Homo sapiens: one gene and its partners. The protein of the gene in region 1 purifies or fractionates together with the protein of each later gene. This does not show direct contact. Each region holds a gene or a part of one and is shown on either strand. Other genes may lie near its edges. The genes, in order: C20orf203, POTEI and CNRIP1.

What was found.
Region 2: the proteins of C20orf203 (region 1) and POTEI purify together in Homo sapiens (affinity purification with mass spectrometry; 3 studies listed by BioGRID and IntAct, with this or other methods). This does not show direct contact.
Region 3: the proteins of C20orf203 (region 1) and CNRIP1 purify together in Homo sapiens (affinity purification with mass spectrometry; 3 studies listed by BioGRID and IntAct, with this or other methods). This does not show direct contact.

What each region holds. Positions count from the first base shown.
Region 1 is NC_000020.11:32,631,096-32,636,035, reverse strand, and holds the end of C20orf203 (uncharacterized protein C20orf203), read left to right. Parts: intron 1-1,765; 3' UTR 1,766-4,411; downstream 4,412-4,940.
Region 2 is NC_000002.12:130,458,926-130,464,422, forward strand, and holds the end of POTEI (POTE ankyrin domain family member I), read right to left. Parts: intron 5,220-5,497; coding exon 3,891-5,219; 3' UTR 530-3,890; downstream 1-529.
Region 3 is NC_000002.12:68,316,850-68,324,748, reverse strand, and holds the start of CNRIP1 (CB1 cannabinoid receptor-interacting protein 1), read left to right. Parts: upstream 1-4,799; 5' UTR 4,800-5,348; coding exon 5,349-5,527; intron 5,528-7,431; exon of another isoform or gene 7,432-7,441; coding exon 7,442-7,592; intron 7,593-7,899.

The DNA of each region.
Region 1 (4,940 bases):
GGGGAACTGTGCCAGATGGAGAGAGAAAGCAGAGGGCATTCAGACAGGAACGGCAGGAGTCAGAGCACGTGGGCTCACTGTACACGGGATGGGAGGACGACACGTCATTCCGGGTGGCTCCCTGGGGGTTTTTGCTGGGCTGGGAGGCATGGCTCAGGAGGATGCTGGAAAGAGAAGTTGTGGCCTCATGGAGTTGCCTCCTAGAATCTGTCTCTGAAAATGAAAATGTGAGACTGGCCCACCATTACAAAATCAGAGAACACAGGAATGTTTATTTTAGACAGGGTCTTGCTCTGTCACCTAGGCAAGCGATCCTCCCACCTCAGCCTCCCGAGTAGCTGGGACTACAGGCACACACCACCATGCCCAGCTAATTTTTGTATTTTGTAGAGACAAGGTATCCTCATGTCCAGGCTGGTCTTGAACTCCTGGGCTCAAGCAATCCCCCCACCTCAGCCTCCCAAAGTGCTGGGGTTACAGGCATGAGCCATGGTGCCCAGCCGAGGAAATGATTATTATTATTTATTTATTTTTCTTTCTGAGATGGAATCTCACTCTGTCACTCAGGCTGGAGTGCAGTGGTGCGATCTTGGCCTTCTGCAACCTCCATCTCCCGGGTTCAAGCAATTCTGCCTCAGCCTCCCGAGTAGCTGGGATTACAGGCATGTGCCACCATGCCTGGCTAATTTTTGTATTTTTTAGTAGAGATGGGGTTTCACCATGTTAGTCGGGCTGCTCTTGAACTCCTGACCTCATGATCTGCCTGCCTCGGCCTCCCAAAGTGTTGGGATTACAGGCATGAGCCACCGTGTCTGGCCCATTTTTATTTATTTATTTATTTTGAGACACGGTCTCACTCTATTCCCCAGACTGGAGTGCAGTGGCACAATCTTGTCTCACTGCAACCTCCGCCTCCCAGGTGATTCTCCTGCCTCAGCCTCCTGAGTAGCTGGGATTACAGGCATGCACCACCATGCCCGGCTAATTTTTGTATTTTTGGTAGAGACAGAGTTTTGCCACATGGGCCAGGCTGGTCTCAAATTCCTGGCCTCAAGTGATCCGCCCACCTTGGCCTCCCAAAGTGTTGGGATTACATGTGTGAGAGACCGCGTCTGGCTGAAATTATTTTTAAAAAGGAACTACAACCCCCAGGTTAGTCCATCACCAGAGATAACCACTGTGAAGCATTTGACACATTTCTTCCTAATATCATTTCATATATATATATATATGCATATGTAGGTCTCCTAATAAAAAATAGTTTGCCTCTTGCTGTCTTTTACCTACAGTTACATCAGATGCATTGTCTGGTGCCTTTAAGTAGTCTCTGAAATCTGACTCCTCAGCCTTTTGGATGACTCCAGCCGGTGGTGGCCCTTTGACAAGTGTGGCCCCTTCTCGTGGCTGGGCACAGAGGCTGTTTCACTCGTTTTCTGTGATAAAAACACCGCAGTAAACATCCTCCGTCCTGCGTAACTTCATGTCCACATTGCTGATTGTTTTGTTGTGTTTTTTTCTGATAAATTTCTGGACATGAAATTCTCGGAAGCCCTGCTGGGCCCGGAGCTGGCTAGGTACTCGGGAGGGTGCTGGGCTTCCTAGAGCCACGCGTCCACACCTGAGGACAGCTTGGACCCAGCTGTAAGGAACAACGTGCACTTCTTGAATGTCTCACGCTGTCTTCCACCGCTTTGTCCATGATGTCACAGTACCTCTCGCCTCCCCTCCCAATGCCTGTCTTGCTAATTCTTTCTTATCTTTCCAGACTCCAGCATAACCTTCTCCAGGAAGCTTTTCCAGAGCCCCCAGGCTAGGAACCTCCCCCCAACCCCTGAACTCAAGCCCCAGCAGCCCGTGCCTGCGCCATCTCCATCAGAGCTGCATCTCTCTGGGTCTCTGGGTAACAAGTGCCATTTCTTTGTTGTTTTCTGTGTCCCCCAAGGACAAAGCTCAGGCTGGATTCATCTCGGAATTCCCAACACCGGGGTAGAACTGGCTCATTTCAATTTCAGTCAATGTTTGTTGAGGAAAGGAGTGAAGAGTTGGACACATGAATGAACGCATGAAACAGTCCGGAGTGGGGAAGCTGAAGCTCAGGCATCAGGATCCGGGAGAAGCATCCAGTCCAGGCGGACGGGGTGGAAGGTTCAGAGCAGGGGCCCCAAGTCAGGAGTAGGGAGGCAGACGGCAAGACCTCCTTCCATGAAAGGAGGCTGGGACCAGGGGACCAGGTAGTGCAACGCGGTGAGGGGGCTGTCAGGGCGACTGGCCGGAGGAGTCAGAGGCAGGAGGCACCACCAGGTTACAGACAAGGACCTTCTACAAGAGGGAAACGTGTCATGGGCTCTGGAGCCCCTGTCCAGGTTCAAATTGTGACCCTGTGCCAGGGACAGCTTCTTTGTGCCTCAGTTTTTCCCATAAAATGAGGATAATAATACTTCATTCATGCCTTTTTTTCCCCTCAACAAACATTTGTTGTATGTCTGCTGTGGGCCCAGGACAGGAGGCTGAGAAGGAGCTGACCACAGTGGTCACACAGCCAAGCCCTGCTGCTGAGATCTGACCCCAGTTCGCCTGTCACAAGTTCTATCTGTGCCTCGTTGTCTGCCTCCTGGGGCTGTTATGAGGGCTGAAGAAGGGGCAGGCACAGAGGAGACACTTACTATATGATCATTGTCCTCCTAGAGTATCATCACCATCAGGTGGACTTCAGTGGCCATCCCAGGCCTCCACGGATCAACCACAAGATCTTGGAGAATGTCCTTACCCTCCAAGCCTCAGTTTACCTTTAGGGTGACCAACCATCCTGGTTTGTCCAAAACTGAGGGTTTTCCTGGCACAGTCCCAGGCAAACTGGGATGGTGAGTCACTGATATAGTTTGACTCTGTGTCCCCACCAAATCTCACCTTGAATTTTAATAATCCCTAGGTGTCAAGAGCAGGACCAAGTAGAGATAATTGAATAATGGTGGCAGTTTCCCCCATGCTGTTCTCATGATAGTGAGTGAGTTCTCACGAGATCTGATGGTTTTATAAGCAGCTTCCCCCTTTGCTCAGTATCACTCTCCCTCCTGCCGCCCTGTGAAGAGCTGCCTTCCACCATGATTGTAAGTTTCCTGAGGCCTCCCCAGCCACGCAGAACTGTGAGTCAATTAAACCTCTTTTCTTTATAAATTACCCCAGTCTCGGGCATTTCTTCACAGCAGCGTGAGAACAGACTAATCCCGTCACCCTGGTTTCCTCATCTCTAACACAGGGACCACCTGCCTCCCAGGGCTGTTGTGCAGAACAGAAATAAGCCTATGGAAAAGGCAGAAAACCATGGAGCCAGAATTCTAGATCTGGTTACATGAATACTAAAGACTTTTGCATGCCATGGAATTCTAGGCATGAAAAAGAACGAGGCGGTCCCGTGTACTGCTGTGGAAGAAGCTCTGAGATACATGTTTTTTTTGTGAAAAAGGCCAGATACAGCGCACTTTGTGGGGAGCGCTTCTGTTAGTACCAAGGAGGGGGCAGGAACACACGTGCATGTGCTCCAGTGCGCACATGGGTTCTCCCGGGCGGGGACTGGGGGCTGAGGAGAAAAGACTTGTTTTTCACTGTACATCCCTTTGCTTTGTTTGAATTATTTTACCCCTTTGTTTTCAGTAGCTGGCCGAAAAACTTCCCAAGCTTCCATGTGTCAAAAAGAACTCACTGAACGAGATTTAAAGGCCAAAGTTAGGGAGTAGGAAATGTGTCTAGCTCAGGGCCCAGCATCTAAGGAGTGCTCCATGAAAGGCCTTCTCCCCTCTCCCACTCCTGACCTTGCTGACTGCTGGGAGTGCAGGGGCACAGACGGGCTGTTGCCTCCCCCAGTGCGGTATTTGTGAGGCTCAAATGCAAGCCCAGGCTGGGGAGACTGCTCTGGGTTCCACGCGGCATCCTGCCTAAGCCCTGGGGGTCCTAGAGGTCACTGGCTCCCTTCTCTGCCTGCATGTCTCAGGTCGCCCTCTGGCCAATTCTGAAGTCCTGCCCTGCCTCAAGGAGCAGAGGTGGCAGAGGTGGGCCCACCGCACAGGGTAAATGTCCCGGTGTCACATACCTCCAGATTGCAGGGACCTGCGTATGCTACTGCTGCTGTGGAAACCAGCTCTCTCTGGCTCTGGCCTTGGGGAGAGGGAGCCACAGTGGATTTAGGAAGAGTCTCCAGATGTAGCTTGAGACTACCAAACAGGCCTGACCCCCACAGACCCTGCCTCTTATGAGCGCCCAGACTGAGCCCTGCTTCAGGCTCCCAGCCATGTGGCCAGCTGCTTTTCTTCTTTAATTTTTAGCATCAGACGAATATTTCAGGAAAATATTCTCATTGTAAAATCTCAAACATTAATAAAATGTAGTGAATAAAAGGCCATGTAATTCCTCTTTACCTCCTGAGCCCCATTCTGTTTAAACCATTGTTGTCAGCTGGTCAGTGTATATACCTATACCTATGCCATGCCTATACCAATACCTATACCAATATCTGTAACTATACCTATGCCACTACCTATGCCTGTGTCGTGCCTGTACCAACACCTATACCTAGACTATCTATATTTATATCTGTTTAGATGTGCATATTGTGTTTAGGTATGCGTCTCACGTGAGTAGTAACATTCTGTATGTTTTGTTCTGCAAGATGCTTTCTTTTTCTTTTTCTTTTTTTCTTTTTTTTTTTTTTTTTTTTTTTTTAGATAGAGACTCATTCTGTTGCCCAGGCTGGAGTGCAGTGGCTCAATCTTGGCTCACTGCAACCCCTGCCTCCCAGGTTCAAGCGATTCTCATGCCTCAGCCTCCCAAGTCGCTGGGATTACAGGTGCACACCACCACACCCAGCTAATTTTTGTATTTTTAGTAGAGGCGGGGTTTCACCATGTTGGCCAGGCTGGTCATGAACTCCTGAGCTCAAATGATCC
Region 2 (5,497 bases), on another chromosome or scaffold:
AGGAATTAAAAGCAGCTGGTGGGTAATCTTAAATTTTAGTCATTAAGGAAAAATTTTAAGACAAAACTCTAATTCAGCTACTTACCTGGAAATAAGGCTCAGACTGGGTGATCATTCTCTGCCATCTTAGAAGCTGGAAAAACTTACACTCACCTTCCCTGTCAGAAGCAAGCTGAAACTCAGGAAAGGAGGTGCCTGCTCTCCTTTGTCAATGGAAGCAGGAAAACTTGCCTTCCTTGTTGGAAATGAGTAAAACTTCAAAAAAGGAGTTGTACAGCAAAATCAACCTTACATCTCAACCAAATTTTCGGAGATCAGGGACTCTGTGAAGGGGAGAAGCTCCACAACCTCAGCAAATTATCCTATTGGTTTGGGCAATACAAATAGCCCAGGTTGGTATCAAGCAATAATGAGATTTATCAAAGGTCAGGACCACCTTTGTAATGTCCTTCTCTTTTTTTATCTTTATTGGTAGAGTCTGTTTTGTCAGAAACTGGGAGTGCAACACCTTTTTTCTGTTTTCCATTTGCTTGAAATATTTTTCTCCATTCCTTTATTTTGAGCCTATGTATGGCACTGCACGTGAGATGGGTTGCTTGAAGACGGCATACTCCAGTGGGTCTTGGTTCTTTACCCAGCTTGCCCCGTGTCTTTCAATGGGAGCATTTAGCCCATTTACATTTAAGGTTAGTAATGGTATGTGTGGATTTTATCCTGTCGTCATGCTGTCAGCTGGTTATTTTGCAGACTTACATATGTGCTTGCTTTTTAGCATCATTGGACTGTGTACTTCAGTGTGTTTTTGTAGTAGCAGGTGATGATCTTTTCTTTCCATATTTAGTGCTTCCTTCAGGAGCTCTCGTAAGGTAGATCTGGTGATACCAAATTCCCTCAGCACTTGCTTGTCTGAAAAGGATCTTATTTCTCCTTCACTTATGATGCTTAATTTTGCTGGACATGAAATTCTGGGCTGAAATTTCTTTTCTTTAATGGCAGTTGATGTGGGTTGGGGTGTGTGCTGCACTCCTGTGTGCTCTCAGGGCAAGTAAAGCAAAACCCACCCGTGTAAACACACACAGCAAAGTGATTTAGGAAGTTTCCAAATAAAGGGCTGCCGTATGGAGAGGCAATGTGCAGGCTGGTGCGTGGCTCTAGGGGCCACCTTGCTGCAGCTCTCCACTGATATGGTACAGTCCACTAGCACGGAAGCTATGGTGTGGGCATCTAAGAGTGCCCCGTAAGCAGGTGTGGCCAGGCTGGGGCCATGGGAGAGGCGAGCAGACTAAGGAGTGCTGAGATCAGACCAGCCCCATCTCAAGTGCAAGATTGCCCAGCCTCCAGAGATCAGGTCTCAGAGGAGAACTCTCTCAAAAGTGAACCCCCAGCACAGCACAGCCGCTCTACACAAACGTGGCTAGACTTCTTTTATTAAGCAAGTCTCCTTTTTTTAAAAAGGGAACTCTCGGACCTGATCTCTGCTGGGCAATCTTGCATATAAGATGTGGCTGGTATGACCTCAGTATTCCTAAAGTGCTGGGATAAAGTGTCTCACAAGGGCAAGTGGACCCTAGAGAGACAGCCATCCCTGACCTCTGGGCTCCACATCACCTGACTTGCTGCTCCACCACTTTGCTTGTTTCCTGGGTGCTCCATCCCAGAGACATGTGAGTTAGCAATCACTTAGTGTAATCAGCCCAGGATGGAGGGTCTGTGCTGTGGGCCCAAGCCAGGGTTCCCTGTCTGGTGATGAGTAGTGGAGGGTGTGTGGTACCCGTGGGAGATGGACTGGCTTGTTCTTTGGGTCAACTGCAGCTTATTGGAGGTGTTGATAGGGCACTTAGGGTCTTTGCTCCCTTGCATCTTCTGAGGGCAGCAAGGGCAGTTCCACTGCAGAGGCAGTGGCAGAAAGGATTTCATTTGCTCCTGGAAGCTCTGTCCCAGGAACTGCAGAGTTGCTACTGGCTTGATAGCTCCAGTGGTGGGCTGGCTAGAGACCCAGGCCAGGAGGATCTGCCCATCAAGTAGAGAGCCTGGCCACTTTTCTGTAGGGCTGCTGTGGTATGCTGGGGGTCCCCTCCAGTCCCTAATTGCCTTGTATTTTCCAGGGAAGATGATAGTCTGCCCCTTCCTCTGGAAGCTCTGTACCACTGAGGTACGAACCTGTTGCCAATCTGAACACACCTATAAGATGTGGCTGGAGGCAAGTTGAGAAGTCTTACCTAGTCAGGACGAACAAGAACAGGGACTTGCTTCAAAAAGAAAAGTCTGGCCACGTTTTTATAGAGCAGCTGTGCTGTGCTGGGGGTTCACTTCAGCCCCTGGTCCGCCTCAGACACTCTGAAGCCCTAAGGCTGAAATGCCTGGGTCGCCCCAACAGCAAAGATGACAATCTGGTCCTCCCCCTGGGAGCTCTGACTCAGGGAGGCCTGAGACCTCTGTCGGCCAGAGAACAGCAGTCAAGGTAGCCAGAGACCCTGGTTGAAAGACTTCACCCACTGACTAGAAATGTGGTCAGGGACTGACGTAAACAAGAGTCTGGCCACGTTTTGGTAGCGTGGCTGTGCTGTGCTGAGGTACCTCTTCCACCCCTTGTCAGCTTGGGCTCTCCAAAGCCCGCAGGCCAGAATGGCTAGTCACCGAAAGAGCAAAGGTGGGGGCCTGCCCCTCTCCGGGAGCTCTGTCCCAGGAACATTTCACATTTCCATTGGCCAAGGAATGCTGGTGGGGGTAGCTGGAGGCCCCAGTTGGGAGGTCCTGTCCAGTGAGATGGAACAGGATCAGGGGCCTGCTTACAGAAGCAGTCTGGCCATGATTTGGTAAAGCAGCTATGCTGTGCTGTGGGATCTCTTCTGTCCCTCGTCGGTTTGTACTCTCCAAAGCCCGCAGGCTGGAATGACTAAGTTGCCTGAACGGGAAAGATGGCGGCCTGCCCCGTCTTTTCTCTCAGAGTTTTATCTTGTTTCATGGAGCTTAATTTTTAGCCTGTTGATTTTACTGTCTACGTTAGACTTGTTGAGAAAGAATCTGTTCTCTTTTAGGTGAGATAAATGAGAATTCATTGTCTTCTGTAAATAAACCTGTTCATGTCTTGTTCTCTGGAAAGAAGTCTCTTTCAGCTATCTGACTTTGGTCACAATCATGTAGAGCAGCAGCCAGTCTACAATGACGTAATTGAATTTCCATTTCCGGTGTTTCCTCGTTGTGTCTTACATTGTCCAGTTCAGAACTGAGCATTTTATTCTCAGTTGTCAACATGCTAAGCTGTCCACTGTACTGAAATACTGTGCTTCCTCAATTTTTTTTAAGGTGTGCACTTTTATCCAACTCTCCTCAAGTCAGAGTACAGGTAAGCCCTGGCTGCCTCCAGCCACTCTCAGGGAGACCAAAAGCCTTCATACACCCCAAGTTGGGGTACAAAAGAGGGGGGCCACGAAGGCTGATCATTCAAAATAAAACAAAATTAAAAAGTATTAAGGCGAAGATTCAAAAAATTTTGCATTATGTAATCTGCACAAAAGCAATGCTATCACCTCCCCTGTGTGAACTAGGGAGAGGACTGGGCCATTCTCCTTAGAGAGAAGTGGGGTGGCTTTTAGCAGGGCAAGGGGCTTCCTGAAACAATGCGTCTCACAATATTTGGAATGACTATTGAAAAGAAGAACAATGTACAATCAAAGTCCTTGGCCACATTGTAGAACTTTGGAGGAAGCTTCCTCCAACCGACTGCTGTCACCTTCACCATTCCGGTTTTTAAATCCTGAGTCAAGCCAATAAAAAACAAAACAAAAAATGAAACAAGAAAACAAATAAAGCCATGCCAATCTCATGTTGTTTTCTGAGAAGTTTGGTTTTGTCAAGAAAGGGTGTAACGCAACTAAGTCAGAGTCCACCTAGAAGCATTTGCGGTGGACAATGGAGGGGCCTGACTCATCATACTCCTGCTTGCTGATCCACATCTGCTGGAAGGTGGACAGCGAGGCCAGGATGGAGCCACCGACCCACACGGAGTACTTGCGCTTGGGAGGAGCAATGATCCTGATCTTCAACATGCTAGGCGCCAGGGCAGCGATCTCCTTCTGCATTCTGTGGGCCATGCCAGGGTACATGGTGGTGCCGCCAGACAGCACTGTGTTGGTGTACAGGTCTTTGCGGATGTCCACATCAGACTTCATGATGGAGTTGAAGGTAGTTTCATGGATGCCACAGGATTCCATGCCCAGGAAGCAAGGCTGGAAGAGCGCCTCGGGGCAGCGGAACCACTCGTTGCCGATGGTGATGACCTGGCCATCGGGCAGCTCGTAGCTCTTCTCTAGGGAGGAGCTGGAGGCCGCCATGGCCATCTCCTGCTCGAAGTCCAGGGCAACATAGCACAGCTTCTCTTTGATGTCACGCACGATTTCCCGCTCGGCCATGGTGGTGAACCTATAGCCACGCTCGGTGAGGATCTTCATGAGGTAGTCAGTCAGTTCCCGCCCAGCCAGGTCTAGGCGCAGGGTGGCATGGGGGAGGGCATTCCCATCATAGATGGGCACAGTGTGGGTGACCCCGTCACCAGAGTCCATCACGATGCCAGTAGTACGGCCAGAGGTGTACAGGGACAGCATGGCCTGGATGGCCACGTACATGGCTGGGGTGTTGAAGGTCTCAAACATGATCTGGGTCATCTTCTCGCGGTTGGCCTTGGGGTTCAGGGGGGCCTCGGTCAGCAGGATGGGGTGCTCCTCAGGGGCCACACGCAGCTCGTTGTAGAAGGTGTGGTGCCAGATCTTCTCCATGTCATCCCAGTTGGTGATGATGCCGTGTTCCATGGGGTACTTCAGGGTCAGGATGCCTCTCTTGCTCTGGGCCTCCTTGCCCACATAGGACTCTTTCTGATGCATGCCCCCCATCATGCCCTGCTGCCTGGGGCGCCCCACGATGGAAGGGAAGACAGCCCGGGGGGCATCGTCGCCCGCAAAGCCGGCCTTGCACATGCCAGAGCCGTTGTCAATGACGAGCACGGCGGTATCATCATCCATGGTGAGCTCATTCAATTGTAGAGCCTTTAAAAGATTATCATTCTTTTTTTTCACACTTTCAATATCCTCCAAATATTTCTTTTTTCTTAGCTGGCTCTGATGTTTCATTGTGTCTAGCTCCAGTCTTAGCATGGCAATTTCTTCCCGCAACGTACTATTTTCATGCAAGAAGTCTTTTTCTTTCTTACAACTAAGAGAAAGCTAAGTAAACAAAGAGAACTTTTAGTTAGCACTCAATAGATTGACATATCATTATTTCTTCTGAAATTCAAAAATAACATGTATTTGTATAATGAAAGAATCCCCATAGTGGATATTTAACTGGAAAAAAATTGGACAAAACTTCAAACCTAATAAGAGTGTAAATTCCTCCAGTGATTTATTTTTCATCGCCTTTAAATAAATATTTAAACTTTTAGGAATCTGCTCCTAAATTCCTAAAAGTTTAAATATTTATTTAAAGACGATGAAAAATAAAT
Region 3 (7,899 bases), on another chromosome or scaffold:
AAAGTAACCCTCAGGGAGAATGAATTTGAGGTTAAAAAAATTGAGAATTCACTTTTAGCCATGTTATGCTTGGGACACCTGTTAACCTATCAGACACGCATGTAGAGATATTCTGTCAGGAGTTGGTTATGTGAATCTGGAACTTAGACAAATGTTTGAACCTGGAGATATAAAATTAGAAGTATCGGTGTGGTAGAAATAATACAGATATTTCCACCTAATGTAAGGAGGTTTGTGTTCTTTTTCAATGGAACTCTAGCCAGCCTCACAAAAGGAGTCAAGAACAGGAAAAGTAGAAAACTATCTTCATGGAATCTAGTTTTAATTGAGTATTTACTTTCATTTGTGGAGAAAAAGTGAGTGGAGCTGTCCTGGTTGTTCAGGAAAGATAACATTTATGTAGGGAAACAGCAAAAGTATTATTTGGAACATAAAGTGCTATGCTAAATTGGCCCAGAACAAAATACGAAACTGACATTATGATCGCCATCACCTGACCAAGGTGCATGTGACTGTATAAGGAGGTAACCAGATCCCCTAAGAGCCTAGCAGACAAATGAGGTCTACTGCTTATTGCCATGGCTACAAAATCCTTTGGGTCTAAGGGAGGACCTAGGTTCTTCAGAATTGGTCCAGGAGGATGGCTTTGTCTTTATGTCTGTTAAATCTAGCCAGAAAGAAAGCCCTGATATAAATGTAAAGTGTACCTGGCTGGGCACTGTGACCCACATCTGCAATCCCAACACTTTGGGAGGCTGAGGCAGGTGGATCACTTGAGGTCAGGAGTTCAAGACCAGCCTGACCAATATAGTGAAACCCTGTCTCTGCTTTAAAACATACAAAAAAAATTAGCTGGGCATGGTGGCACGTATCTATAATCCCAGCTACTCAGAAGGCTGAGGCATAAGAATTGCTTGAACCTGGGAGGCAGAGGTTGCAGTGAGCTGTGATTGCACCACTGCTCTCCAACATGGGTGACAGAGCTAGACTCCATCTCAAAAATAAAAGTAAAATAAAATAAAATAAAATGTAAAATGTACCAGTTAAGATCTCTAATGCTAAGACATTCTGAGGTAGGCAAAGGGAAGGAGTCAAGCACCTCATAAATCATTGACACTAATTTAAGAATAAAAATAAGAAATAACTCCTGCAGATGTTAAACTGTACCTGAATGCAAACATGAATACAAAGGAAAATACATTGTTAAATGTGCTGGTATTATATTGTGTATATGTGTTTGTGTGTGTGTATAACCCAAGCCCAGGACACATTATGACACATGACATAATTGAGTGTATACATATGTATGTGTATAACCCAGTCCCAGCACTCTTAACTACGTTATTTTCATATACATGCACACAACTATGTCCTGTGTCATAATTCTAACTGTTTTTGAACTCTATATTATGAATTCAGCAGAGACTGGAACAGCGAATATGGAACGGTTGTTAGCACAATGTCTTAGTCTGTTCATGCTGTTATAACAAAATATCTTAGCCTGGATAATTTATAAACAACAGAAATTTATTGCTTACGATTCTGGAGGCTTGGAAGTCTAAGGTCAAGGCACCAGCAAATTTGGTATCTGGTGAGGGTTCACTGTTTGCTTTATAGATGGCAAATTCCCGCTGCATCCATACATGGTAGAAGGGGGCAAACGACCTCCCTCAAGCCCCTTTTACAAGGGTACTACTAATCCCATTCACGTGGGCAGAAGAGCCCTTATGACCTAATCACCTCCAAAAGAACCCACTTCTTAATACTATTGCTTTGTGGATTCGGTTTCAACATAGCCATTTTGGGGGAACACAAGCAGCTGGGAGGCTGAGGCAGGAGAATCGTTTGAACCATAGCATGTGATTCCTCTGAATGACAACTAAGTCCATCGTTCACTTGGGCTCAATTTCACAGTTTTCAAAAGAATGATAATAAGCATTGTCCATTAGACAGACAATGTTTAAGATCACCAATCTGAGGTAATAATTAAAGAATCTACAATAAGACTGAAAGCACTAGATACCTTAAAAATATATAGCAAGAAATGAATTAATGCAGGAAAAAAAAGCCAAATACCGCATGTTCTCATTTTTAGTGGGTGCTAACCATTGGGTACCCATGGACATAAAACAGTTTTTCAACCCTTACTTGTCTCCCTCCCTCCCTGGCTAGTAGTCTTCATTCCATTGGTAACAATAGACACTGAGGACTTGGATGATGGGATCATTTCTACTCCAAACCTCAGCATCATGCAATACGCTCCAGTAACAAACCTGAATCTAAACTAAAAGTTGCTACATATTCAGCAAGTATATTTTTAAATAAAAATAGTTACAATGTATTGAGTGTCTCTATGGGCCTGATATTCTTGCATAGTTTACACAATTTCATTTGGTTCTATATGCATCATCTATGTCACCATCATCATTTTACAAATGAAGAAACTGGGGCTCCAAGAGACTAAAGCAGCTTTGCTCAAGGTCACTCAGTTTGTAATCCACAGATCTGGCAACACAAACACAGATCCATCAGACTCCATATTCATATTCTTTGCACATATGTATCAGTGATGATAAATTTTCCAATTACTTTTACATTTATTAATTTCATTTTAAGACATTACATTGTATGGTCCTGAAAATGCTATTCCTAATGGATATTGCCCAGCATTAGTAACACCTCGTATTTGAAAAGTAATTTATTTTTTTCAAACAATTTCCATTTCCTCATTCAATTCTCACAATGTTGGGAAGGAGGTATTTTAATCCTCATTTTACAAAGATGAAACATAAAGATGTTAAGTTATTTGCATAACGAAACTAAAAAGTGGCAGAGTTAGGTTTTTTTTATTTTATTTATTTATGAGATGGCAGTCTTACTATTTTGTCCATACTGGCCTCAAACTCGTCGGCTTAAGTGATCTTCCCACCTTAGCCTCCCAAGTAGTGGGGACTGCAAGAGTGCACTACCTAGCCAGGCTAGAACCAGAGTTTTTGTTTTTGTTTTTGTGTGGGTTTTTTTTTTTTTTTTCAGATGGAGTCTCACTTTGTTGCCCAGACTGGAGTGCAGTGGCATGATCTCGGCTCACTATAAGCTCTGCCTCCCCAGCTCAAGCGATTCTCATGCCTCAGCCTCCCAAGTAGCTGGGACTACAGGCATGCGCCACCACGCCTGGCTAATTTTTTGTATTTTTAGTAGAGACAGGTTTTGCCATTTTGGCGAGGCTGGTCTTGAACTCCTGGCCTCAAATGATCTGCCCTCCTTGGTCTCCCAAAGTGCTGGGATTCCAGGCATGAGCCACCATGCCGGCCTTAGAACCAGGTTTTAAAATGGAGTCATCATCCTCCAGGTCCAATGCTCTTTTTGATACACAGGTGGAAGTTGGCTTGAGATTGTGGGGTTGCTAAACAAAAGGTTGAGGAAAAAAGGCAAAATTTCCAAAAAGGCTTTTAAATGACCCCAAAAAGATACTCACCCTCTTTCCACTACTCATAAACCATAATAACCAACATTAAGTTTACTGTGTAACTCTCTCATTCTTTTAAAAGAGCTAATACAAACATACACATTTATATTCTTTTTAAATTTTCATTTTTCTAAAACACTAGAGATGCTACTTGCAATTAGATTTCTTTTCATCATTCCAGGTAAATCGCAAGGATCTAATTAATTTTAAAGATGTGAAAGAATTTACATATGGACATGATTAAGACCACAACCGTAAGTCAATTCAACAACGATTTCTGGAGCACCTACTATGTGTCAGGCACTATTTTGGCATGCTGGGGAAACAGCAACAAACAAAACAGACAAAATGCTCGCCCTCAGGCTTTGTTTCCCAGCCATCCCACTTTTATCATTAACAGTTTTTGCCTGTGTGTTTGCCAATGCAACCTATATTTCATTATTTTGATAGTTGTGTAACGTTCTATAGTGTGGGTATATAAGAATTTATTCAGCCATTTATTTATTGGTTAACATTTCATTTAGGTTTTATTTTTATTTTTGCAACCAATGTTGCAATAAACACCCATATTACATATATATTATATGTATAGCTTATTATTTCTTAAAAAAGAGCAGTCTAACTTGGGTAAACAAAAACTGCCAAGGAAACGCATCCCTACCCATTTGTTCTCACTAGCCCACTTCATTTCCCAGGTGTGCTCCCTGGCTCTGGTACTATCCATCTGGGTGGTGCTGAAGCAGGTGCTCTCTCTGCTCCGGGAAGCCATTCCCAGTATAGTCCTCACCCCCTGAGTCTCCCCTCGCTTCCAAAAGTCAGCTGTCTACCGACCTCTGCCACGAAAACTGTCTAATCACGCTTAATATGCAAATCTAAACTCTGCGGTGTCGCATATGGCCCCCTGCCAATAATCCTTTGACCCATCCCACCTCTTGGCCATTTTGTCACCAGAATGCCTTAGGCTCATGTCAGTTGCCTTTTACAGGGTTAATAGCTCACCCTTCAAAATCTGTGTAAATATATGTGATTCATTACATATATTTATGTATGTGTCATTTTTGGGACGAGCATACGTATAATGGAAATGTACACCCACAAGAAGATGTAGCTCCTTGAATATGGTTATTTTCTTCCTCTTGCATCCATTCCTCATCCAGCGTGGCTCCATCACGTGGAATTGCGCCTTTCCTCGGCCATTTCCCCTAAGCTTTGGAAAGACTCATATTTCCTGAAATTTAAATCACCGGCTAGCGGTTTCCTGTCCCCCCTTCCCGCCTCCCTTTACCCCCCCTCAGCCTCCTCCCGCCTGGCTGGCGCCGGATCCGCGAGCAGCAGTGTCCACCTCACGTAGCTGGCCGAGGCGGTATCCAGATTCCGGGGGTCTCGCTCCTTGGCATAGTGGTCGCTTAACTCCAGCGCCTTCCCAGTGCCTCCCAAACCTCTCCTCCTCCTGCCCGGGGCTGTTCTAGGAGGAGCCTAAATGTCCGCTTCCCCAGCTGAAGGGGATTGTGGTGCGTAAACAGGATTAACTCCCTCGCCCCCAGCTGCGCGGATCTGCGCGGCGGCCTGCGGGCCAGAGCGAGCCTTCGGGTGCGTGGAGGGCGCAGCACTGGAGCGGGGGATGGGGAAGCGCGCGGCCTTGGAGCCGTCTCTTGGGCCCGCTTCCTCGCCGAGTGGGGAGGGGGGCCACAGCCTAAGGAGCTGCTCCTCAAAAGCCCGGGCGGACGGCGGCGACGGCGCGGGTTCCTAGCGGCAGCCTCAGCTCCACCACCTCCCTCACCCTCCCCGCGCTTCCTCTCCGCCCCTCGCGCTCCAGCCACTCGGCCGCAGCCGGCGCTGTCCTCCGCCCCCCGGAGCCGCCGCGCCAGACCCTCGCCCAGACATGGGGGACCTGCCGGGCCTCGTGCGCCTCTCCATCGCGCTGCGCATCCAGCCTAATGACGGCCCGGTCTTTTACAAGGTGGACGGGCAGCGCTTCGGCCAGAACCGCACCATCAAGCTGCTCACCGGCTCCTCCTACAAGGTTGAGGTGAAGATTAAACCCAGCACGCTGCAGGTCGAGTGAGTGCGGGGCGCCTGGTGGCAGCAGGGTCCCCCATGGGGTACAGGCAGAGGACTGAGGCCCCCAGGACAGCCCGAGCCTCTCAAGGGCCTCTGGCCTCGCGCCGCTCCCAGCGGGCCCGGGGGTTGGAGGAAGAGGTCACTCCCTGTCCGCCTTCGTCCCCTTCCTTCCCTTTGGCTTGTATTCCTCCATTCTCGCTTCCCTCCACCCATCGCAGTGACCTCAGTGGGTTCTTTAAAATCAGTGACAAGAAGCCAGGGTTTTTGCTTGTCTGTTTCTTATAAATTTCTCCTGCCTTCTGTCCAGCCTTGGGCGCGGAACCGCAGGCGGTCGGGGTGGAGCAGATGGGAGAGGTCCGCAGGGTTCAGCCACCGCAATCCCAGCCCTCCTGCGCGCGGTCCAGGCGGCCCACAGGGTCTGCCCGCAAGGCTGAAGGAGGGAGAAAGGAGGAATGAGGTGGAAAGGCAGGGGAGGGGTGATTACTGGGGCTCCCTGAGGGATGCTCCCCACTCCCTTCGCCATTCAGTGGCTGGGACCCTGGGGTGGAGCAGCAGACACTAGTAAGAGAGCGGCCGCCCCTTCTCTGGCCTAGTTTCACGGTTTTCCATGCCGTATGCTGTTCTTTTTCTCCTGAGTTTTCTGTTCAGGCTGGTGATGGTGCCTGGGATTAGCAACATCCCCACAGCAAGAGGATGTTTTTTGGTTTATCCATGGCAGGGACGATTTCTTGCCAGCGACCGCTGGATAATGCACCCAGTAGACCTCTGGCGGGAAAGTGTGTGGGAGCATGCAGTAGCCTACCCGGAAGAACTGCGGGTGGAGCCCCTTTACCTCTCGTTTCTACCTACCAAAGTCTAGTCTGCAGAGAGAAAATAAACCAGCATTTATTGTATCTACTACATATGGTGGGCATTATTGCGGGGGTGGAAGGACTTTGAATTCATCAGATACTACTTATAGCTTACGTTTTAATTCAGTAAACTTGTATTAGCCTTCCAAGGTGCAAGGACCTAGAACCAAATCTGGATGGTTTCTGGTACTCCTGATTCATCTATTTGTCAGCATCCCCCACAGCTCCATGCACCCTTTATTCTCACATTTCCCAGTGTTCTGTGCACCTGGATATAATCCAGGCTTTTCCTTTCCCTTCTTTCCTGCCAACCTTATCCCCGGAGTTATCTGTTAATATATTTCTTTTTTTTTTTTTTAGAGTATTCCTCTAGTGTTCAAACTAATCTAAAAGTTAATTTGTTAGGAATAAAACTATTTTTTCTGGTTACATTTTAATGCTATCAAGGATTTCTCAACTCTAATCCTGTGGTTCTCAAACCTGAGTATATATCAGAATCACCTGGAGTGCTTGTTAAAACACAGATGCTGGAGCTCTCCCTAGAAGTTCTAGTTTAGTCTATGGTAGGGCCTAAGAATTTGTTTTCTAAGGTCTGCAGGTGATGCTGATACTGCTGGTCCAGGGACTTGGCTTTGAGAACCATTATCCTAACACAAAAGAATGATGCCAGTGAGAATTTCTGATGGTGTAGAAGGCTTGAGGTACTCCAAATCATAGGACCCCTGATTGTTGGAACAGGAGAAAAAAAATATTAGAGGACGAGTTCAGTATTCTCAATCCTACCTGCATATTAAGATCACCTAGATAACCTTAAAATAAATGTACCAGTGTCCAAACTACATCCCAGGCCAACTGAATCCTAATGTCTGGGGCTGGGGATAGGTAGGTTTTTAATTCATAAATAGGAGAAGCACTGCCCCCTGAACTTGCAGAACTTTCTCCCGCACCACAATGCCCCCCTTAGTGAAACCCTGTAAGTTTCCTGCCTAGAGTTTTGGTCCAAAACAGGACAGGGTGCCTAGGCTAATTTCAACCGTATGTGGTCAACTCAAGTCTATTGCAGGAATATTTCCATTGGTGGTGTGCTTGTCCCACTGGAACTGAAGTCTAAAGAGCCTGATGGGGACAGAGTTGTTTATACGGGTACATATGACACAGAAGGTGTGACCCCAACGAAGAGTGGAGAACGGCAACCCATCCAGATCACCATGCCGGTAAGGCTTGCTTGCGGGTATAGGAGTATGGTGCCATGGAAAATGGAAACCACAGAAAAGAAAACAATCACTATCTCTCTGTAAGAAAAGGTGTGTTGGGAGCCAATTACTGTGGAAATTGAGTTGTGGATTTCCTTCAAGCATCTGCTGGAGAGAGAACTACTTAATTAATGCTCTTTTGCATGACAGACTGACCCTGTAGATGCTGAAAAGACACCATAAGCAGAAGCAGATGGTTCTGGAAGAGACAGAACCTACATTGCCATTTTCCCAGTTATAGTCTACTTCAGAACTGGTTTAGATAATT